2 linked regions of the Homo sapiens genome follow. The protein of the gene in region 1 purifies or fractionates together with the protein of each later gene. This does not show direct contact. Each region holds a gene or a part of one and is shown on either strand. Other genes may lie near its edges.

Region 1 (7,000 bases):
TGACTGTTCTATGATTTGTCCCTGTAAAGTTACCACTCTCCATCTTCTATCTTTTTGATATGCTACTCTTGTGGCTTGATCCAAGTTGTCAGCTACTAAGGTATCTCGTAAAGCAAAATAAAAAGCTTGGCGAATTTTCTCATCTTTTACTTTTACTAAATCAAATAAACGAGGAGTATTTTCAGGAGTTTGAATTTCGGTCATCTTTTTCGCCCATACAGCCATCTAAAAGTAAACAAACAAACAAACAAAAACAACAGTTAACAAAAAAGAAAACTCAAAAAAAAAAACAAAAAAAAACCCATAGGAATAAATTCAACAAAAGAAACAAGAATTATACACAAAAGGTTCTAAAATTAGACCTAAACGGAAGACATCTCATGTTTGTGGTTCTAAAGATTTAATACCGTTAAGATGCCTATACTATCTAAACTGATCTACAAATTCAATACAACCTGTATCAAAATCCCAGTTACTTCCTCGCCTTTTTTTGTGGCAGTAATTGACCATCTGGATCTTAAAAGTCATATATACAAATTATAGGGACCCAGAACAGTCAATATGATAAAGAACAAAATTAGAGGACTCAGACTTCCTGATTTTAAAACTTATTACAATGCTGCAATAATCAAGACAGTGTCCTATACCAGCACAAGTAATAAAACTGAAAGCCCAGAAATAAACCTTTACATTAATGGTTGGGTGGTTTCAACAAGGATGCCAAGAAAATTCAATGGGGTAAAGAATCTTTTCAACAAATGGTGTTGGAATAACTGGATAGCCACATGGAAAGAGTAGTTTGAGCCCTACTTTATATCACGTGATAAAATTAACTCAAAATAGATTAAAACCTAAATATAAAGCCAAAACTATAGAACTTTTAGAAGAAAACAAAGGAGGCAAATCACTGTGACCTTGGATTAGGCAGTGGTTTCTTGGGTATGATACCCAAAACACAAGCAACCAAAGGAAAAAAAAGATAAATTGTGCCTCAAAGGATACCATCAAGAAAGTGAAAATACAATCCAAGGAATGGGGTAAAATATCTGTAAATCATATCTCACAAGAGACTTGTATTCAGAATAGAGAAATCCTACAACTCAACAAAGAGAAACCAATTAAAAAATGGGCAAAGGATTTGAAACAGACATTTCTCCAAGGAAGATAACAAATGGCCAAGGACATGAAAGGACTTTTACTATCATAAATCACCAGGAAAATCCTAATCAAAACCATGAGATACCACTTCATATTCACTAAGATGACTATAATCAAAAAGATGTACCATAACAAGTGTTAACGAGGATGTAAAGAAACTGGAACCCTTACACATGCTTGTGGGAAATGGTACAGCCACTGTGGAAACAATCTTGACAGTTCTTCAAAAAGTTAAACATAGAATTACCACATGACCCAGCAGTTCTACCCTAGGTATATATATACCCAAGAGAACTGAAAATACATGTTCACTCAAAAACTTGTACACAAATGTTCGTAGCACAAGTATTGCCAAAGCACAAAAAGTGAAAACACAAATGTCCATCAACTGACAAATGGTTATACAAAATGATGTAACAGAATACCATTTGGCAATAAAAGGGAATGAAGTACTGATACATGCTACAACATAGATGAACCTGAAAACCTGCTAAGTAAATGTAGCTGTATAAAAAGGCCATATATTGTATGATTCCATTTATATGTAGATAAATCTACAGAAACAAAAAAGTAGTTAGTGTTACGGAGGGGGTGAAGGGGTATAGGGAGCGACTGTTACTGTCTATGGGGTTTCTTTCTGGGAGTGATAAAAATATCTTGGAATTAGATAGTGGTCATGGGTGAACAACACTGTGAATATACTAATACCCACCAAATTACATACTTTAAAATGATTGTTTTGTTTGTTGTTTTTGAGTCTCACTCTGTCACCCAGACTGGAGTGCAGTGGCGCAATCTAGGTTCACTGCAACCTCCACCTCCCAGGTTTAGGCAATTCTCCTGCTTCAGCCTCCCGAGTAGCTGAGATTACAGGCGCCTGCTACCATGCCTAGCTAATTTTTGTATTTTTAGTAGAGATGGGATTTCGCCATGTTGGCCAGGCTGGTCTCAAACTCCTGACCTCGTGATCCGCCCGCCTTGGCCTCCCAAAGTGCTGGGATTACAGGCATGAGCCACCGCACCTGGCCTAAAATGATAAATTTTATTGTAGGTAAATTATCTCAATAAAGGTTTTCCTTTTAACTCTGGAATGTACATTCCTTTAGTGGAGGCACTGCAAATGTCAAACAATTTTTTATAATCATATAACCCCAGAACATAAAATAATCGTCAAAACCCATCAGGTGTTCACTGAGTAACCATTAAGAAAAAGCCTGAATCCAAAAAGAAAAACACACTTAGCACTTAAAAATTCAATTATAGGGCTGGGTGTGGTGGCTCACGCCTGTAATCCCAGCACTCTGGGAGGCCGAGGTGGGCGGATCACAAGGTCAGGAGATCCAGACCATCCTGGCTAACACAGTGAAACCCCTCTCTACTGAAAATACAAAAAAATTAGCTGGGTGTGGTGGCGGGCACCTGTAGTACCAGATACTCGGGAGGCTGAGGCAGGAGAATGGTGTGAACCCGGGAGGCGGAGCTTGCAGTGAGCCAAGATCATGCCACTGCACTCCAGCCTGGGTGACAGAGCGAGACTACGTCTCAAAAAAAAAAAATTCCAATTATAGGTAGGTTATTACGAATACCCACCTTATCTAAACCTATAAAGGTTGCAACTCCAATATTTTGTCTTTTAAGGAAGTTTACACATTCTTGGGCTATATCAATAGAATCAACAACAATGTAGTCCAGTGCATGACAACAGGATGATATAGCCACGTCGTATTTTTCATCAATGGCTCCTAAGTCCCCCTAATAATGAAGAGTGGGGTGAAAAAAGAGTTAGGCAGAAAAGCACAGGACCATTTCATTCATCAAGTTTTAAAAACTTCTTTTAATTGAAAAACTTTATGTAGACATGGTTTTAAAGAGAACAAAAGGGTACACAACAAAATACAAAATATGTATAAGTTTATGAATATGCAGCTTGAATTTCTAATGAGCACAAAATGAAAGAACTGTTTTCATTTTATGAAAACAACATGAAGCTTAAAACCTAAATGAACTATAAGCAAAACTCAGAAAACTTTGAATTATTGAAAAGCATCTAAAATTATGTAAATCCTGATGAAACACATTTATCTGTTTATCTATTACACAACTATCTAGCAGTATTCACTGGTTTGGGCTTTCTTTGAGAGCAAATGAATAGGATCAAACTGTTTATCTTTAAGAAAATAAGGTGGAAGTCCCGATACAAGATGCAGAAGCAATCATGTTGGGTAATTTTTACATCAATTTGTTCCCTTCTCCGAAAGGCTGACTTAAGGACTGCATCAACTGGCTCCTTTGACTCTCCACCTTCAGCCAATTTGAGGTTTCAGCTAAGACTGGAGGGCAGGAAATAGGTGGGGTTAAGGTATCCATTTTCCCCATCTCCTCTGGACCACAACTCCCTTCCCTCGAAGCTAAGAAGCAGTAATGGTCCTCACTATTGCTAGCCTTGGATTTTTAGATTATCCCTTGTTATATCCTTAAATGCTAGCCCAAACCTAAGTAAAATGGTGTGAAACCCCAAATATATAAAAAAATTTTTTTTAATTTTCATTTTTTAAAAAACAGTCTTGCTATATTGCCCAGGATGGACTTGAACTCCTAGGCTCAAGTGATCCTTCTGCCTCTGCCTCTCCAACAGCTGGGACTACAGGCACACACCATTGTGCCTGGCTAAAGTCTCTCTTTTAAAAAAAAGGATAAAATGGTTTTAAGTTTGTGTGACATTACTAGTATTTTTCTTGATATGTATGAAATAATTGTATTTATCTAAAGCTAAGTAAACAAGAAACTGTAAGGGCAAAATGTTTAAAAATAAATGTGCCTTAAAACAAACAAAATGAATCTTATTTTATATACAGTGACACTTGAAATATGGTTGTCAAGGCAAAAAAATAAGTTACACTTTCTTAAAAAAAAAAAGTAAAGCCATGCCCCCCAAAAATCTACTTTACCAATCTTCCATATATTCCTGGAATCCTGCCAGATTTTTTTTCTTGAATTATTGCATCAAGGACTTTCCCCCTACTTCGATTCATTGCTAATGAGCTCTTTGCTTCTTCAACTTTTTGAAAGAGATCATGAACCAAACTTTTAAAGTTTGTTTCTTCTTGTGTAAGTTTTTGAAGTTCTTTTTCTTTCTAAAAGTGAAAATAAAATGAAATCCAGAAGCATTAACTTCTAAATATGACCAGTCATAGCACTGAATTAGTTGTAATGCTTTAATAACAATAAAGAAAGAAAGACCAACAATAAAAATTTGAACCAAAACTGAGCACCTGTATGGCAATTGCTGGTTTGGTTGTGGAAAATATGGATGGGTTTAAAAGGGGCATAAATTACTTGGGTCAATAAAAGAAAACATTAGGTGTAATATTTTTTTCAGGAGCAAACAGTTCATCCTGATAGAGAAGTATAGCTGGGGCTGTGGAAATCCCAGTTTGATACTACATAGTTATACATAAGTGTGCCCTAATTCTTCAGCTCTGCCCTAATGAAAAGCTGACCCAGAAAATGACTGGGCAGGACTACGGTTATGCTGTGCTTTATTTTAGCTGAACGGGGCTGGGGGGTACTGGAGAAAAAGCACACCTCTGAAACGAAAGATGACTGGATAGTCCTATTGCTATACAAAAATGCCAGGCTCCCAACAAGAAAGGAACCACAAACATGCACACATAAACACAACCTCTGTTTCTCAATCTCCAACTTCTCAGCAGCCATCTTTTCTAACTGGTATATTCCTCCATCCACTAGATTTAAATTATGTCTATTACTTACTGTACTGGCATAAAGTTTAAACCAAGTTACTGACATAATTCATCCCAAAAGAAACCGAATCCCAGGAAGACAGAAGCAGTCACTGGATCTAACTTAATTTACATTTAAATTCTACCTGGTCATGAAATTCCCTGATGACCAAATAGCATGCATTAACTAAAATGAAAAAGACTCATATTTATTTTCAGTATAATTACACTTCAAACAGATTTTTTTTTTATTGCCACCTTGCCTACTGAGGTTTTGGAGATCTTTGGAGATTAAAGTTTACGAAATTCCTTAGACATCTAATTCACTCAAGGATGGGGGACAGGCACCGATAAGCTATACATCTTAGTTAGTTTATAACATTTTGGAATGCAAGCAAAGAAACTACATCCATAAATTCAAAACCCAAAACACATTAAGATAGTTGTTTGTATATTCATTATATAAATACATATACACTTGTTTTTTATTTATCTTTAAATTGTCTATACTTAAGATTTAAAGAAACACAAACTTTCTTTTGTTTAAATTATTTCTACAGTGGGGTGGTGGTGGTGATTTACTTACTATATGGTGCTTCTGGGGATAATATAGTTTCTTGATAGTCTCAGTTCACATATGGAATACTGAAATGCTGACCTCATTCTTTTGAGATTATACAAAATGAAGAAAATTTATCACTAGTCACCTCTGACGCGGAGATTAAAAACAAAAATGTATAAAGCTGAAGTGGACGAATGATGTTCTGATGCAACAGAGAAGCAAAGATTTACCTCCTTTAATTCTTGTTCAGTTTGAGGGAGTTTTCCTTCTATATCTCTGATTGCAGCTTTCCTTTCTTTGAGAGTCTCAGAAGCTGCAATTAGAGCTTCCTTAGCCTTAGTTAATTGAGACACTGCAGTATTATGACGACTGAGATAGATATCAAGTTCTGACTGGGCTACATCCATCTTTGAACGTGCTTCATTTACCGATTTGCTGAAACCCATAAGTTCTTTCTCTCGACTCTGTTAAAATATGAGTTCATTAAATCTGGACAGATATTTACTTTCAAACCTACACTGAAATGAAACCATACATTTTATATTCGATTTAAGAAAGGAGATTCTATAAGCACAGTATATAGAAATAAGAAATTCTCACAAGTGGACTAGATTCAGTTTTTGCCTAGTTGTCAATATTCACTGTACATAGTCTTTTCCCAACTGATTTCACAAGAGCTTTGTGAGATCGATCATTACGCTGAGGAATAAAGACATTTGAGGCCTAGCTTTGTCATTAACATGGGGTGCAGGGCACATGAGTACTCAATATATATTAAATAAGCAAACAGTGAAAATCCACTAACTATGAAGTATCCCATCATGAAAGCTACTGCATTATCCATTGACACTTTATCACACAGGTATTCTAACCTGTAAAGTTTTATAATCTGACATTAGAACATGTCCATATTCCAAAGCAGACTCTATTAAGTGACACTTCATCACACAGGTATTCTAACCTGTTAAGTTTTATAGTTTGACATTAGAACATGTTGATATGCCAAAGCAGACTCTACCATGACTTTTTAATGCAGTCAATTACCATTATCCATTAACATAGGTATTTAACATGCTTAGCACTGTCAAAAATGCTGTGGTACATACAAACAAAGATAATTTTATGCTTACTCTTGTTGGGGTAGATAATACATATCAATGTGACAACTTCATGCTCTCGTTTTATTAATATAATGCTAAAATTATAGCTAACATTTATTTTCTTTCTCAGTACGTTATATAGATATATTTATTCTTTATTTTCACAAAGTAGATATATTCTTTCTCATTTTAAGGAAGATGACTTGGAGATATGACAACCGGCACAAGAACAGAGACAGTAAGTGATTGACCTAGGATTTGAACCAAGAACTGAAACAAGAGCCACAGCTTTTAACTATTACACAAGAGCTATAGAAGCAAAAACAAAAGAGACATTAACCTGCGCTTAGTGTGGCTCCAGGTTTTACAGGTGGCAACAAAATATGATGATTCAACACGCTTAGGAGTGGCATATATAATAATCAAGGTACTGTATT
Region 2 (17,123 bases), on another chromosome or scaffold:
CACATCGGATTAAAATAAAAATGATTCTACTTAATCTTTAAAGATTTTAGCTTATATGCCATTTGATTGATCTTAATGACTTGAAGTCTGTTTTGTTTGATCAAATCACTGGAAAATGATGCATTCATTTAATATTTGTTAAAAGCATTATATTTCGTAGATCATAAGTGGCAAAAGGTATCAGTGGAAAAAGCTGAGAAAAGGGTTCCTCTTATTCTACAATTATGAGTCAGTTCTGTCTTAGTCCATTTGGGCTGCTGTAACAAAATTCCTGCGAACTTAATAAACAGAAATTCATTGCTCACAATTCTGGTGGCTGGGAAGTCCAAGATCAAGGTGCTAGCAGATTTGGTGTCTCGTGAGGGCCTATTCCTCTTAGATGGAACCTTCTAACTGTGTTCTCACATTGTAGAAGGGATGAACAAGATCTCTCAGGCCTCTTTTATAAGGACACTAATCCCATTCATGAGGGCAGAGCCCCCCCAGAAGTTCCACCATCCAACACCACTGCACTGGGGATTAAGTTTTAACACATGAATTTTGCGGGGACACAAACATTCAGACCATGGCAAGTCCCTTCCTTATCACTATATTGTAAACATAAGAAAAAAAGTCAAGATATTTTAAGCACAATTTTTTTCGGGTCTTTATGTCAGTGGTTAGAGTCAGATTGCCCAAGTCTTCACTATTCCTATCAATCACATGGTTTCATAGCCTCTTTTCCTTCCCTCCTCCTCCCCATACAGATATATATATATATATATCTGTATATAATATGTAACTTCCTATTTACATTCTCATTCATTCAATTATTCTTTTCTTTAGTAGCTGGGATCTAGATGCAAACAAACAATACATTTTACTAATGTCCTAGCCCAGAACTTTATCACTTTTTTTGTGGGTTTTTTAGTGTTTCCTAGCAAGGCCTTCTGCTTTGAATTTTGCCTTTATCTAAACTGTTCTGCATTCTACTGCATGGAATAGTTTCTTTTGAATAATAGCCTTTAATGAGTGATTGAGGATCTATATATGCCAAAGCAATGCAAAGCTAACAAAACTTGCCATACCTCTGAGAACCCAATACTGTTATCAGTGCCACTAGACTCCCAAACTAGAGTACTTATTTAGGGAGTTTTACAGTGCAGTAGTTGCACCTGATATTCTATATGTAAAAGATGTGGAGGGCTACTTTGTGTTTTGTTTCAGACAGAATAACAGGAGTAATGGGGACTGTTTGGTCCATTGTTTTTAAGCTTTATTCCTGGTAAGTGGATGAGTTGGAGATAAGTCTCAAAGACAGTGCACCGATGCCTTTTATTATGCATTTTTCACTTCAGGAGATTGTGCAAGATCCAAAGAGAGGAAGGCCAGGAATGTGCTCTCTGGTAATTTTGCTGTCTAAAACTACCGAAATGCACATATAAATCTTTAATTGTTTTTATAGGAATTAGTTAAGATTTATACAGAAATGAATCTACCTAAAATTGCTAGTCCTGTGCTTGTTGCTTACTAAAATGTATTGGATTAAAAACTATTTTGCATCTTTTAAAGTTTATTAGCCTTTGATTATACAGGTTGAGTATTCCTTATCCAAAATGCTTGGAACCAGAAGTGTTTTGGATTTTATAATATTTGTTACCGATTCAGCATTCCTAGTCCAAAATCTGAAATGCTCCAGTGAGCATTTGAGCATCATGTCAGTGCTCAGAAAGTTTCAGATTTTGGAGCATTTCAAGATTCCAGATTTGTAGATTAGGGATGCTTATCCTGTAGAATATATTCTAGCGGAGTAAGCTAATTAGCTACTTTTCAAAAACTTACCTGGAAAATTGTGAGTTATAAGTCACTTTGATTAAGAAGTTTTATAAGTTTATTTAAACTGTGTATATTTAGAAGTTAAGAAGTTTTGTAAGTTTATTTAAACTGTGTATATTTAGAAGTTGTTTAGAAATTCTAGGAAGTTAAGTTTGTCTTTTACTTGATAGCCACTGTAACTTACTTAGTGTCCCTTTTATAAAAGAATCTTTCCTGTTGGATTGTTTTCTTTTTTTTCTTTTTTTCTTTTCAAGACTGGGTCTAGCTCTGTTGCACAGGCTGGAGTGCAGTGTCGTGATCTCAGCTCGCTGCACTCTCCGTGTCCCAGGCTCAGCTGATCCTCCCGCCTTAGCCTCTCCAATACCTGGGACTACAGGCATGCATGCCTGGCTAATTTTTTGTTGGTTTGTTTGTTTTAATATGTAGAGATGAGGTCTCACTGTGTTGCCCAGGCCGGTCTTGAACTCCTAGGCACAAGCAATTGATCCTCTTGCCTCAGACTCCTGAAGTGCTAGGATTACAGGTCTGAGTCACTGTGCCTGGCCTAAAGAATGTTTAATAGGCTGGGCGTGGTGTCTCACGCCTGTAATCCCAGCAGTTTGGGAGACCAAGGTAGGCGGGTCACCTGAGGTCAGGAGTTTGAGACCAGCCTGGCCAACATAGTGAAACCCATCTCTACTAAAAATACAAAAAGTAGCCGGGCGTGGTGGCACGCACCTGTAATCCCAACTACTCAGGAGGCTGAGGTAGGAGAATTGCTTGAAGCCGGGAGGCAGAGGTTGCAGTAAACCGAGATCACTCCACTGCACTCTAGCCTGGGCAACAGGAACAAGACTCCCATCTCAAAAAAAAAAAAAAAAAAAAAAAAAGGCCGGGTGTGGTGGCTCACGCCTGTAATCCCAGCACTTTGAGAGGCCAAGAAGGGTGGATCACGAGGTCAGGAGATCAAGACCATCCTGGCTAACAAGGTGAAACCCCGTCTCTACTAAAAAATACAAAAAATTAGCCGGGCGTGGTGGTGGGCGCCTGTAGTCCCAGCTACTCAGGAGGCTGAGGCAGGAGAATGGCATGAACCCGGGAGGTGAAGCTTGCAGTGAACCGAGATCGCGCCACTGCACTCCAGCCTGGGCAACAGAGTGAGACTCCGTCTCAGAAAAAAAGAAAAAAAAAAAGAATCTTTGATAGAAAACAGACATTTGTTCATAGTTCTATTATGTTTATAGTTAATAAATCCAAATCTCAGTTGTTTTAGGGTATATCATTTTTTACAATTCTGAGACAGAAACCAAGACGTTTTCCAGAGTATTTTGATCGTTTTTGTGTAGATACTTACAAGGAGATTACGATTTCGGTTGGAACGTGCACCTGGTGAAACTGCATTGATTGACAGGACTGGCAGAATGTTGAAGATGGAACCTTTGGCTACAGTTGAATCTCTGGAACAGTACCTTTTGAAAATGGTGAGTTTCTGGCAAGGGCACGGTGAAATAAGCATTCTGAGCTGTGGTTTAGCCTTTTAGGACAATAATTTGGGAAGTATATATCCAGAGTTATGGTAATACAGTTTGGCCCAGTAATTCCATTTTAGAACTGATTTCTACATGAAGATGTTTATTATAATTTTGTAATATTGAAATAGTAAACAAAAACCTTAATTCCAATCAATAAATTAATGTTAAATAGATAATTCATATTAAAAATTTAAATTTAATTGACAAATGTGTGTGATAATTATTTCTATTAATTTGAGTATCATATAGCCATAAAAATGTATAAAGACTAATGATAACAGAAAAATGTTTTTGTACAGTATGATCAAGAATTTGTTTTATCCTATCCATTGAAATAATAAACTAAAGAAATACTCTGTGATTATTAATAGTGAGGTGCTTTGGTTGTGGGACTTTTTATTTTTCTTTATATTTTTAAATGAGCATTTGTTTTTTGTTTTTGTTGTTGTTGTTGTTTTGTTTTGAGACAGAGTCTTGCTCTGTTGCCAGGCTGGAGTGCAGTGGCACAATCTCGGCTCACTGCAACCTCCGCCTCCCAGGTTCAAGTGATTCTCCTGCCTCAGCCTCCCAAGTAGCTGGGACTATAGGCACCTGCCACCACGCCTGGCTAATTTTTGTATTTTTAGTAGAAACGGGGTTTCACCATGTTGGCCAGGGTGGTCTCCATCTCTTGACCTCATGATCCACCCACCTCCGCCTCCCAAAGTGCTGGGATTACAGGCGTGAACCACCGCACCCGGCCTAAATGAGCATTTGTTATAATAAAAGAAAACAATTCACATTAAAGAGATAGGAAAAAAGTAGGTAACGTGCTTGAAAACAGCATTATTAAGGTGACTGTCTTTCATATTTTCTTTGGTTTAGGTAGCAAAACAGTGGTATGATTTTGACCGATCTTCATTTGTTTTTGTTCGAAAATTAAGAGAAGGACAAAATTTTATATTTCGGCACCAGCATGATTTTGATGAAAATGGAATCATTTACTGGATTGGAACAAATGCAAAGTAAGTCAGTCATTTTACTTTAAGCTGGAGTGACCATATTCACTTGGTAAAAGAATTCTAGGAAGTAGAATAAAATTGTTAGCACTCTGAATATTCTGTGGTTTAAGGAATTTTGACTTGTAGGTAGAAGTTAAGATTATCCAAATTACTTTTTATGAGGAAAAAATGTCTAAATTGCTAATTCTAGAATTGTACTTAATATAATTCTGTATTTAAAACCTTGTGCAAATGCAATTATCTTAACGTTGTTATTTGCTAATTTTTCTTTATTTTTGTATAGAACTGCTTATGAATGGGTAAATCCAGCTGCCTATGGACTTGTAGTAGTAACGTCATCAGAAGGAAGAAATCTACCTTATGGCCGCTTAGAAGACATACTAAGTCGTGATAATTCAGCTTTAAATTGTCATAGCAATGATGATAAGAATGCCTGGTTTGCCATAGATCTGGGTCTCTGGGTGATACCATCAGCATATACACTTCGTCATGCTCGTGGTTATGGAAGGTCTGCACTGAGAAATTGGGTTTTCCAGGTATCCAAAGATGGACAGAACTGGACTTCTTTGTATACCCATGTTGATGACTGCAGTCTCAATGAACCAGGGTTAGTTGAGGAGTCTTTGCAAATTGGAAAACTCACTAAAGAGCTTTGTTTATTTTTATAATTTTATACTCTAGAGCTCTCTTCCTTGTGAAATATTGAAGCAAAATTTTCTTTCTAAAAACAAATCACTTGATACTTTAGGCATTAAAACTTTGAAACACTGACTTTACTAAAACTTTGTCAAAAGGTTTAGTTTAAATAATAGAAAGCCGAGCTATTTTACACTGTATCTTAGCCAAAAGGCTGAGATGCTGTGAATATTTATTTTAAAAATTGGTATATAGCTGTATATACATACGCGCGCACACACACACACACACACACACACACACACACACACACACACACACACATTTATGCATACACACACAGCCCACTAATGGAAACAAGTGAAATAAACTTTCCATAAACTCTCCATATAATCACATAATACTTAGGAATGTTCAACATATTAGCAGTGGCTATTGCTCGTTATAGAATTAAGGCTGACTTAAAATGTTTTTATTTTTATCCTTAAATTTTATGTATTGAATAAGTTTTTAAAAGACAAGTCAGTAACTTCTAAAAAATTAGTTCTACTAAATTTTATTTATGCATTTTGGCACATATCAGGGGGTAGATTATGTACCCAAATTGCTTTTGGCATTTGATATGGTATGAGAGGAGCTTCTTAACATTAGGATTAATAGGTGATGTTTTCACCCCTTTCATGCTTTAAAGACAAAATATTAATACGTTATTTAAAAGTTTGCAAAAATGTTTTTAAGTCCGTTTTTCCATCATAAGAGAATTTCTCCTACTCTTTGTAAACCATCCTTTTTTTTTTTTTAAGGAGAATGGGGTCTTGTTATGTTGGCTGCTTTCTAACTTCTGGGCTCAAGTGATTCCCCTCACCTCAGCCACCCAAACACCACTGCACCCAGCATTTTGTCTTTTATCTTTGAATTATATTAATCATAAATCATTAATGTTATGAGTCAAATCAATAGCGTACATTTAAATGTTTCGTTTTTAACTTGTTCTCTTGACTACTTTTTTTCCTTTGATTTCTTGATTCTTGTAATGAACTGTTGAGTTAATATGAAAGTTAGTTTATTTTTTCTACAGGTCTCTGTTATATAAAAAATCTTTCCCATCTTGAATTTCTTTTTCATCTTTTAAAATATTACATAATTTTTTCTCTAACATATTAACAGGTCAACTGCAACTTGGCCTCTTGATCCACCAAAGGATGAGAAACAAGGGTGGAGACATGTGAGAATTAAACAGATGGGGAAAAATGCCAGTGGACAAACACACTACCTCTCATTATCTGGATTCGAACTTTATGGCACTGTAAATGGAGTATGTGAAGATCAGCTAGGTAAAGAGATGATACGAGGCTTTTCTAACTTACTAAAACAATTACTTTTGTAAAAAGTGATTTGGTTTTTATTTCTCCAATTTCTACCTGACAGGGAAAGCAGCTAAAGAAGCAGAAGCTAATCTTAGACGGCAGAGACGTCTAGTACGTTCCCAGGTTCTGAAATACATGGTTCCAGGAGCTCGTGTTATCAGAGGCCTGGATTGGAAATGGCGAGATCAGGATGGCAGCCCACAGGGAGAAGGCACTGTCACAGGAGAACTACACAATGGTGAGTAGGTGCTCAGCACTTTTGTGTAGAAAATGGGTAGTTAAATTTTTTCTTTTAAGATAATTTATAAATTGCATAAATGTATGAGCACTGTTTAGAAGAACTGTTGATACCACATTACAAATGGAAAAAAGGTAAAGAAAATAAGGGAAAATTTTAAGTTCTTGGGTTTTGACTAGAAACTTACTGGTAGTATTTTGGAAGTGATCAAGCCTAGTGTAAGTTGAGTATCTTCAAGACACACTTCCGGTTTTTTCCCCTAGTTTATTTTCAAGCTTACTGTGAGTTTTATTTTAATTTCTTATGTTTTTCTTTATCTTGTTAGTCTCACACCATAATTTTTATGGTATCATAAATCATATAGAAGAAAAAGGATTAACATTTTTACTGTTTTTTAATAATGCATGGAACAAGAAACATTGTCTCTTTATCTGTTAGTAGATTATTATTATTTCAAAGTGTTTCTTAGCCTACCTGCTTTTTGGGGAGGAGTTTATCATGTTTTCTAAATATTGCTATGTGAATCAAGTTTCTTTGATGCTGCACAGTTTAGCAAAGTCATCCACTTAATAAATTGCTATTAACTTTAAAGCAATTATAGTGGCTAATTATTTTCTTCAAACTATAAGGCTGACTTATTAGCAGATAATTTGCCTAAATGGCAGTGGGTTTGTTTTCATCAATTTTGTATCAGTTTTTGGCATTAAAAAAAGTAAAAATGTTTATATTCTCAACTTACACCACATATATATATCCACATATATGTGTGTGTATATATATGTATTTTTTTTTTTTTTTTTGAGACAGAGTCTCGCTCTTGTTGCCCAGGCTGGAGTGCAATGGCGCAATATCAGCTCACTGCAACCTCTGCTTCCCAGGTTCAAGCGATTCTACTGTCTCAGCCTCCTGACTAGCTAGGATTATAGGCATGGGCCACCATGCCTGGCTAATTTTGTATTTTTAGTAGAGACGGGGTTTCTCCATGTTGGTCAGGCTGGTCTTGAACTCCCGACCTCAGGTGATCCACCCACCTCGGCCTCCCAAAGAGCTGGGATTACAGGCGTGAGCCACCGCACGCGGCAACTTACACCACATATTTAAAGAGCTAGAATAAATGTGACGGTACTTACGAGAATGACTGACATTTAATTTCATGTTTTATGTGGTAAAGACATTTATTTATTCAAATAAACCCTTTGACTATATTGCTTTTAAGATTCTATTCCTTGAATTATTTTACTGCCAAATGTATTTATGTAGTATCATGCCCTAATTGCAAATCATTGTAATCAAAACAGGTTTACAGCGACCTAAAATTCATAAATACCAGTAATAGTTGAGATATCAACTATTATTGTTATACTGAGTTGAATAGTAGTGCCATTCAACTCAGAAAATTTCAAGTTTTCTTTTTAGGCATCTTGATGATACTTATTAAAAAGTTGTTATTCTATTTCCTGTAATTGTTTTGGCCTTGATGTATGTGACTTGATAAGAAGAGGCTAGTTAGAGATGTGTGAATGCAGTTCTTTTTTCTCAGGATGGAGTCAACTGAAGCAATTGCATAGGGAAATTAGAATCTTTTTTTTTTTCCCAAGATACAATGGCACAACAGTTTTAATACAACCACCAGTCTTCAAAAAATAATTTTAATACTTTGTGCCTGTACTAGCAGCATCTTGCACTGTGACATTCCTATACATACATAAGCATTTTATTGAAGTACAAATGTTAAAAGCAGAGTAACTTAAGCAATTGCCTATACAAAGGTAAATAGACACTGTGGGTTATTTTTCTTCTCGATTCATTTTTGCTGCATAGTAAGTTGCAATTACATGTCAGTATAATAATGTTACTGATCTATAAAATATATTTGAACCGTGAGGTATGGCACCTCCCTATGAGAGAGTGCTAACATGTACATCTGAATATTTTGAGTGTTTTTTGTTTGTTTGTTCGTTTTAGCTGCCACAGATGGGAAAAAAAAAAATCACCTAGCCTAGAAATCTCAGAGTTTAGCGTTCAAGAAAGGCCTATTTTTGCTAATCTGACAAATGTAGAAATTTAGTTTTGCCTAATCAACATGGCCATTCCCATCAAGTTATGCCTTTGAGTCTCTATGTCAGAGAGGGTTCTTAGCTTTCAAATACTTAAACCAACCATTTCTAATGATGGATAGTCATTACTGACTCTATTTTTTTTTTTTTTTGGTTTATCTTTTGGGTGTAGAAGGAGTTGAGAGAGTATGTTTTTTGGGCCAATTAATATAATACAAAAGTTACTTTTATTTGAGATTGGGCTATGTTTTTGAAACTTTTCCTTTTCTCACACATTTCTGTGTAGCAGAAGAGATAGTTAAATGTTGGTTCTTCAGAGATTATTTCAGCATACAGAAAAAAATAGAGGCAATTGAAAAATCTCATCTAAGCTACTTATGTAGATTTGGGGCAGTCACTTTTCCTTTCAAAGAACACATATGCAGATAATCCCCACAGGTAATTCAATATTATTTCCCTCTGAGTGCTATCATAAACATATGAACTTGGTGTAAGTGTGGGTGAGCATCTGGGTGTGTGGATGGGTGTGTATGTGATCTTGGGCCCCTTTTATGTATGGGTAAGAACTTTATAAAGGCTTGTTATACTTCTAAAAAAATGTTTTTTATGTCTTATGTTTTTCCCTGAAATAGTTAGCTTATAACACTAAAATAAGATTGTAAAATTTCTATTAATTTGCTTTTAATAGACAATTTTTTTTTTGCTTTTGGAAGTTAATTACCTTTTTAAAAAAAGAATATCATTTTTCTACTACAAGTAAATATATAGATTGAATATCATTATGCTCGTTAATTCTGTACATGTTATTAGCTTTAGCAGATAGTTCTAATAAAAGAGTTCAGTATGCTCTTTAAATTTTTTTTTAGAATTTTCTGTGTTTATTCAAATTTATTGAACTTAATTATTTAATATAAGAGAACCAAGGAACCACTGAACTTTGAGAACACAACCGAAATGCTAACTTTAGTGTTTTATTTGAACTAGTGACTAAAATTTCTATGGCAATATATGAATATTTTGAGAGGTTAGCCCAAATTGTAAGAAATTAATGGTAAGCTGGCATGTTTTTGTAGAAAAAAAATTTGACTACACATAATTATATTTAGCAGTTTTAAAACTTTTACCTAGATTCTGTTTACTTGCTGAAGTGGCAGTATTTTACCATGTATATCAATCTTTTAAAATTTCTTAAACAGTTCTTCCATTTAAGAAGTAACCAAGCCAGGTGCAGTGGCTCACATCTATAATCCCAGCTACTCCAGAGGCTGAGGTGGGAGGATCGTTTAAGCCCAGGAGTTCAAGATTAGCATGGGCAACGCAAGACCTCATCTCTAAAAATCAAATAATTTTAAAAATGAAATATAACCCAGTAGATTTAAACATGACCCTTACATTGCTTTTAAATGTCATAGACTGAATAGTTCAGAAATAAGGGAAATAAAAGGAAGAATTTTAAACATTTCCTGGAAACCTTGTATAGAGTACATATTTCTTGTCCTTAAAATATTTGTATCATGAGAGTTAAATAATATAGACTTTCAGATAGCTAGTCATATCGTCAAATAATTGAGTCCAAAAATTTACATATATTTTAGTGGGCAGACCTTGATTGACTATAGAAATTCAGAAAAGGACAGCACTGATGAAAAGCTGATCCCATATTGTGGAGCTACTGTCTGACACGCTCCTATCTGCTTTCTGCTGGGTCTCACAAACTCCTGTCCCTTTCCAGGCTGGATTGATGTCACCTGGGATGCTGGTGGCTCAAACTCTTACCGTATGGGCGCAGAAGGAAAATTTGACCTCAAGCTTGCACCAGGGTACGACCCTGATACAGTGGCATCACCCAAACCTGTTTCATCCACTGTTTCAGGCACAACGCAATCATGGAGCAGCTTGGTGAAAAACAACTGTCCAGACAAGACATCTGCTGCTGCAGGCTCCTCAAGTAGAAAAGGAAGCAGCAGTTCTGTGTGTAGCGTGGCCAGTAGCAGCGACATCAGCTTGGGTTCGACCAAAACGGAACGGAGATCAGAAATTGTAATGGAACACAGTATAGTTTCAGGAGCTGATGTCCATGAACCAATTGTTGTTCTTTCATCTGCTGAAAACGTCCCTCAAACAGAAGTAGGGTCATCTTCCAGTGCAAGCACCAGCACCTTAACAGCGGAAACGGGAAGTGAAAATGCTGAAAGGAAGTTAGGCCCTGATAGTTCTGTTCGTACTCCTGGGGAGTCTAGTGCAATATCCATGGGAATTGTCAGTGTTAGTTCTCCTGATGTTAGTTCAGTATCTGAATTAACTAATAAAGAAGCAGCTTCACAACGACCTCTTAGCTCTTCAGCAAGTAACAGACTGTCAGTGAGTTCTTTGTTGGCTGCTGGGGCCCCTATGAGCTCTAGTGCAAGTGTACCTAACCTGTCCTCAAGAGAAACATCTAGCTTGGAGAGTTTTGTAAGGAGAGTGGCAAACATAGCACGGACTAATGCCACGAACAACATGAATCTAAGCCGAAGCAGCAGTGATAACAACACTAATACTTTGGGGAGGAATGTGATGAGCACAGCAAGTAAGTGAGCTTTTCCTTCTGGAATCCGATGCTTTTTCCACTTGGAGGGATGCAAAATAGGGTCTCTTGTTCTGGCTGCAGTTTTTAACTAGATCATTAACCATGTTAGATAAAGCTACATCAAATTTAGCAGTTCAGGAATATGAAGTTCTCTAGAATCATAATATTTGCAGAATTCAGACTAGGTGTGATAAAGAACCTCTTATTTTAGAAGCATAAAACAGTACTTCTGATTTTCACTCCTTTATGATACATCATTAAGCAAAGTTGCATGAGGAAATAGATGACTATTAAATATTATCATAGTGCAGTGAAACCAAAGCATCATATAAGTATAGCTTTTGTTTAGACTCTACATTGATCTTAGCTTCTGAAAGTTAAATTCCAATTTAAGCTGCTAACAGGTCAAAGTAATTATATAATAGTGCTATAAAAAGAATTTTTAGTTGGATTTCAGTTGGGTTCCCAAAGTTGTTGCTTTTCAGGAACCATTTTATTATTAGTGTGTTTTATGACCTCACTCTTTAAAAAATAAAAAACTTGGTTTTTCTGAGGTTTCTACAATCTCACCTATTTGTACTGATTTGCTTCATTTTTGTCTTTAGCTTCTCCTCTTATGGGTGCTCAGAGTTTCCCTAATTTGACCACACCTGGTACTACATCAACAGTGACTATGTCAACATCCAGTGTTACTAGCAGCAGCAATGTAGCTACAGCAACAACAGTTTTATCAGTTGGTCAATCTTTAAGTAACACTTTAACCACCAGCCTCACATCAACTTCCAGTGAGAGTGACACAGGTCAGGAAGCAGAATATTCCTTATATGGTAAGTTGTAATTTAAAATGAAAGTATTTAGATACTTTCATAATGATGCTTTTATTATGTTTTCTCCTGATATTTTAAACTTTTGTTTAAAGAGAATTATTCTCTCTTCTTATAAATATGAAATCTTCGGGCCAGGCACAGTAGCTCACACCTGTAATCCCAGCACTTTGGGAGGCCGAGGCAGGTGGATCAGTTGAGGTCAGGAGTTCGAGACCAGCCTGACCAACATGGTAAAACCCCATTTCTACTAAAAATACAAAAGAAAATTATCCGGGAGTGGTGGCACACGCCTGTAATCCCAGCTACTCAGGAGGCTGAGGCAGAAGAATTGCTTGAGCCCAGGAGGCGGAGGTTACAGTGAGCAGAGATCGCGCCATTGCACTCCAGCCTGGGCAACAAGAGCGAAACTCCTTCTCAAAAAAAAAACAGAAAACAACAAACAAATACAGAATCTTTATATATAATATGAAAAAACTCAGTAATACGAGAGACTATTAAAAAATTATCTGGGGCCAGGTGCGGTGGTTCACACCTATAATCCTAGCACTTTGGGAGGCCAAGGCGGGCGGACCACTTGAGGTCAGGAGTTCGAAACCAGCCTGGCCAACATGGTGAAACCCTGTCCCTACTAAAAATATAAAAAAAATTAGCTGGGCGTGGTGGCGGTTGCCTGTAATCCCAGCTACTGGGAAGGCTGAGGCAGGAGAATCGCTTGAACCCGGGAGGTGGGGGTTGCAGTGAGCTGAGGTCGCACCACTGCACTTCAGCCTGGGCGACAAAGCAAGACTCCGTCTCAAAAAAAAAAAAAAAATCTGGTCAGAAGTGGTGGCTTGCGCCTATAATCCCAGCACTTTGGGACGCCAAGGTGGGAGGATCACCTGAGGCTCAGGAACTCAAGACCAGTCTGGGCAACATAGACCCCCATCTTTACCACCCCTACATCCCCAAAATTAGCCAGGTGTGATGTCATGCTACTGAGAAGGCTGAGGTGAGAGGGTTACTTGAGCCCTGAAGTTCAAGGCCCCAGTGAGCTGTGATCATGCCACTGCACTCCAACCTCAGTGACAGGGCTAGACCCTATCTCTGAAAAAATATTTTTTTTTAAATTGCAATTATCTGATTATACATGAAGTAGATCTAGGAACTTTATATGTCATTTTTTTTTGTATTTTGTCACAAAAGAAGTTTTAATGGAAGAACCATAAAGCTATTTGACACTCTTATCACTAAGAGAAGAAGTGTAATAGATTCATAAGCTTTGTAAAATGATATTCCTTGTATGCTGTTATCACAGTCTTTTGGAAGTAATTCCTTAGTTAGGTAATGCATGATTCTTGCAAATTAAATTTTATTTGGAAAGTTCAGTAACAGCCTTATGGCTTCCATGCTATAATCAAAGGGATGTATTTGATTCAGTTAAGATAGAATCTGTGTTTCTATTTCTTTTATTTCATCTTATTAGAAAAGTAATGCTCTGTATAGAAACTAGAAGAAAATTAAAATCATCTAGTCCCCACCTACCAGACAACCAGCTTTGATGTACATCATTTGATGTATGTTTTTGTTTTTTTAACATAAAAGGATTATATCCTTTTCCGCCAGCTGTTTTCACTCAATACATTGTGAAAATATTTTCACATATGTTGCATGGGTTTCTATAACATTTGAAATGACTGCCAAATATTTCACTGTATGATCATCATTTAATATTATTATCAATTTTGTATATTTAAGTTAGAACTTTTCCATTACCATAAACATCATTATGAATGAGCTTTCTTGAACTGTATTTTAATATACTTCCTTAGGATAAATGCTTAAAGTAATAATTATTGAATTGCTTTCCAAAAACATTGCACTCCATCCCAATTGTTTTGGAATACCCTTTACCATATATCCTTGATCATACTGCCTGTTTTTCTTTAAAAAAAAAAAATTGGGAGTAATTTTAAAGACAAAGTTTATGTGAAGATACATTTTTAAGGTGCTATTTTGTGTATAGCCCATTTTCATGTTTTCTTCCTTTTTGTGAGAATATAGCCTCTCCTAATTCATAGCAAGAATTTGATATGATGTTCCATAGTTTTAAGAGAGTCATTATATTTCTGTTTCTGCTTATTAAACGTGTGTGTAGCAAAATGATGATGATTACACCAAAGTGTTATAAATTCATTGCATAAGGTGTTTTCTGATTTATTATTTCTCATGGTGGCCCTGTGCCCCTCTCTACTGATTTGTTATTATGTTAACTTCAAGCATTAGTTCTTGGTCATGGGAAGTTGAAGATGATTGTGGGTAGGAAAGAGTGAACTGGCCGGGCGCTGTGGCTCACGCCTGTAATCCTAGCTCTTTGAGAGGCTGAAGCGGGCAGATTGCCTGAGGTCAGGAGTGTGAGACCAGCCTGGGCAACATGGTAAAACCCTCTTTACTAAAGTACAAAAAATTAGCCAGGTGTGGTGGCCCACTCCTGCAGTCCTAACTGCATAGGAGGCTAAGGCACCAGAATCTTTTGAACCTGGGAGGCGGAGGTTGCATTGAGCCACGATTGTGCCATTTGCATTCTAGCCTGGGCAACAGGGCAAGACTCTGTCTCAAAAAAAAAAAAAAAAAAGTTAGAACTACTGATTGACTTTTAAATTTTGTTGTTAGGTTTGACTAGCCTTAAAAAAATTTATTGTTGGCCGGGCACAGTGGCTCACGCCTATAATCCCAGCATTTTGGGAGGCCAAGGTGGGCAGATCACAAGGTCAGGAGTTCGAGACTAGCCTGGCCAATATGGCGAAACCTGTCTCTACTAAAAAATACAAAAACTAACCGGGTGTGGTGGCGGATCCCTGTAGTCCCAGCTTCTCAGGAGGCTGAGGCAGGAGAATCTCTTTAACCCGGGAGGTGTAGGTTACAGTGAGCCAAGATTGTGCCATTGCACTCCAGCCTGGGTGACAGAGCGAGACTCCATCTCAAAAAAAAAAAAAAAATTTATTGTTAGATGATGAAAAAAATTAATATAATTTTTATTTTAGATTCAGGGGATATATGTGCAGGTTTGTCACAGGGGTATATTGTGTGATGCTGAGATTTGGACTTCTATTGATCTTATCACTCAAATGGTGAACATAGTACCCAATAGGAAGTTTTCAGCCCTTGCCCACTCTTGCACTCCTTTTGGAGTCGCTAGTGTCTACTGTTCCCATCTTGATGTCCATGTGTACCCAAGGTTTAGCTCCTACTTATAAGTGAGAACATATGATAGAAGATTTTCTTTTTTATATTCTTAAAGCTGGTAGATACTTTAAGACTGCTGGGGTGAAGGATCAGAGTAACATCAGTTTATACCATTTGTGTATGCTGTGCAAGCTTTTACTGTGTTTTGTGGTTTTTCTCTTACCGCAGGCACGAATACTATACCATGTTGTGTTTTGAAGAGACATTTTATTCTATGATGTGGTCAAATCTGTGAAATACAGAGCTTTTTAATGCTGGTAAAAAAGGGAAGATGAGAAAAAAAAAGGGACATCAGTCAGTTGTAACATACCGGAGATAGAATTTCAATATATGAAGTTAGATTATGTTCTTTAAAAGACAAATCAAAGTGGAACTGGTTTATTTTGTGTACCACCACATCATGTTAATCACAACCAGTTCCTAAATTGCAGGTGGCTCCTTACAAGTGTTAAAGGGTAACATATTTTATCAAATTTAAGATGCTGTTGAGTGTTAAGACACACCATTTTTTTTCTGTTACTAAGGTTAAAAATGTTGCAATTTAATTCTGACTTGCCATTGTTTGTAAGATACATTCCGATTTCAAAGCATTACAATGTTTTAAAAATGTAGACCTTTCAACCTGAGAAAGTTGATAACAGCAAAAAAATGTGGACCCTTAGAAACTAATGAAATATAATGGCAGGCCTCTTCTACTGGCCATCCAGTAAAAGGCACTGAATATTTAGTCCTGTGTAATTATTGGACTAAAAACCATTTGGTTCAGTGGTCTGCAGGTGTAAGTTTCTGAGCAATTATAAATTGTCTTCTGGATGTTCTTCAGGAATATAAAGTATTTTGTTTTCTATCCTTTGTGCAATTCTGATATTATATTTTACTATTTTTTCCAGATCCAGTAAAAACTTCTGTTATAATCCCTTTAGTCCTCTTTTTTTCAGTTTTTATGAAGAACAGTTTGTCAGCATCTTCATTTATGCAGGACAATGTAATTTGACCCAGTCTCCATCGAAGGCAAGAGATTATAAGAAGGAAGGAGATAAAAATGATGCAAGTTGTTTTGAACTTCCTTATGTGCTAGATAATATGGATAACATGAAAGATGCCACATACATTATTCCGTAGTAAATAGGCATTATCTTAAGTAGTCATTGTTTTTAAGTAACCTACCAGGTCACATATCTAAGCCCCGTTTTTCACTGATTGACTTAATTCTGTTTTTCCTCGTAAGATCTTTTACATGTTGTAAAGGTTTGTTTTTTTGGTTATTGTTTTTTAAATAGCCCCACATGGTTATCCATTTATATTATGATTTTGTAATTCAGGTTTAGTTTATGGTTGTCCTTTATCACTTGTTTTTGTCATGCTTGTGTCTGTGCTCATCTTGTATGTGGTGGCAGAACGCAACAGTTGTCCCTTTTGAATTTTACTTTTGTTTTGTAAAAACCTAAAATGCAAAGTTCCTTTGTTATGCTTTCTTAATTGTGTTGACATAAGGTTGTGGGTTTTGTTTTCAAGATTTCCTTGATAGCTGCCGTGCCAGTACTCTATTGGCTGAGCTCGATGATGATGAGGACTTACCTGAGCCAGATGAAGAAGATGATGAGAATGAAGATGACAATCAGGAGGACCAAGAATACGAGGAGGTTATGGTAGAGAGAGTACCCCATTCTCTTTACAAAGATAGGATGTTAATAATTGAAATGAAGAAAGGAAAAGCTAAGTCATAATCAAACTTTGAAGCAAGGAAATGTGGCACCAGTATAAAAAATGTAGTTAATTAAGAAAAGCAGTTTTAATCTGAGCATTTATGATTCTCCACTTAAAGAAAATAAGTTGCTTATATTTGAAAAATTTTAGAATGTCACATGATGTTTTAACAG

Evidence for each region.
Region 2: the proteins of SMC4 (region 1) and HECTD1 purify together in Homo sapiens (affinity purification with western blotting; 3 studies listed by BioGRID, with this or other methods). This does not show direct contact.

The regions. Positions count from the first base shown.
Region 1 is NC_000003.12:160,416,650-160,423,649, reverse strand, and holds part of SMC4 (structural maintenance of chromosomes protein 4), read right to left. Parts: intron 5,928-7,000; coding exon 5,694-5,927; intron 4,293-5,693; coding exon 4,107-4,292; intron 2,911-4,106; coding exon 2,749-2,910; intron 226-2,748; coding exon 1-225. UniProt on the Homo sapiens protein: Central component of the condensin complex, a complex required for conversion of interphase chromatin into mitotic-like condense chromosomes.
Region 2 is NC_000014.9:31,122,683-31,139,805, reverse strand, and holds part of HECTD1 (E3 ubiquitin-protein ligase HECTD1), read left to right. Parts: intron 1-3,140; coding exon 3,141-3,275; intron 3,276-4,190; coding exon 4,191-4,330; intron 4,331-4,610; coding exon 4,611-4,934; intron 4,935-6,130; coding exon 6,131-6,297; intron 6,298-6,391; coding exon 6,392-6,568; intron 6,569-10,357; coding exon 10,358-11,194; intron 11,195-11,799; coding exon 11,800-12,021; intron 12,022-16,181; exon of another isoform or gene 16,182-16,290; intron 16,291-16,758; coding exon 16,759-16,892; intron 16,893-17,123. UniProt on the Homo sapiens protein: E3 ubiquitin-protein ligase which accepts ubiquitin from an E2 ubiquitin-conjugating enzyme in the form of a thioester and then directly transfers the ubiquitin to targeted substrates.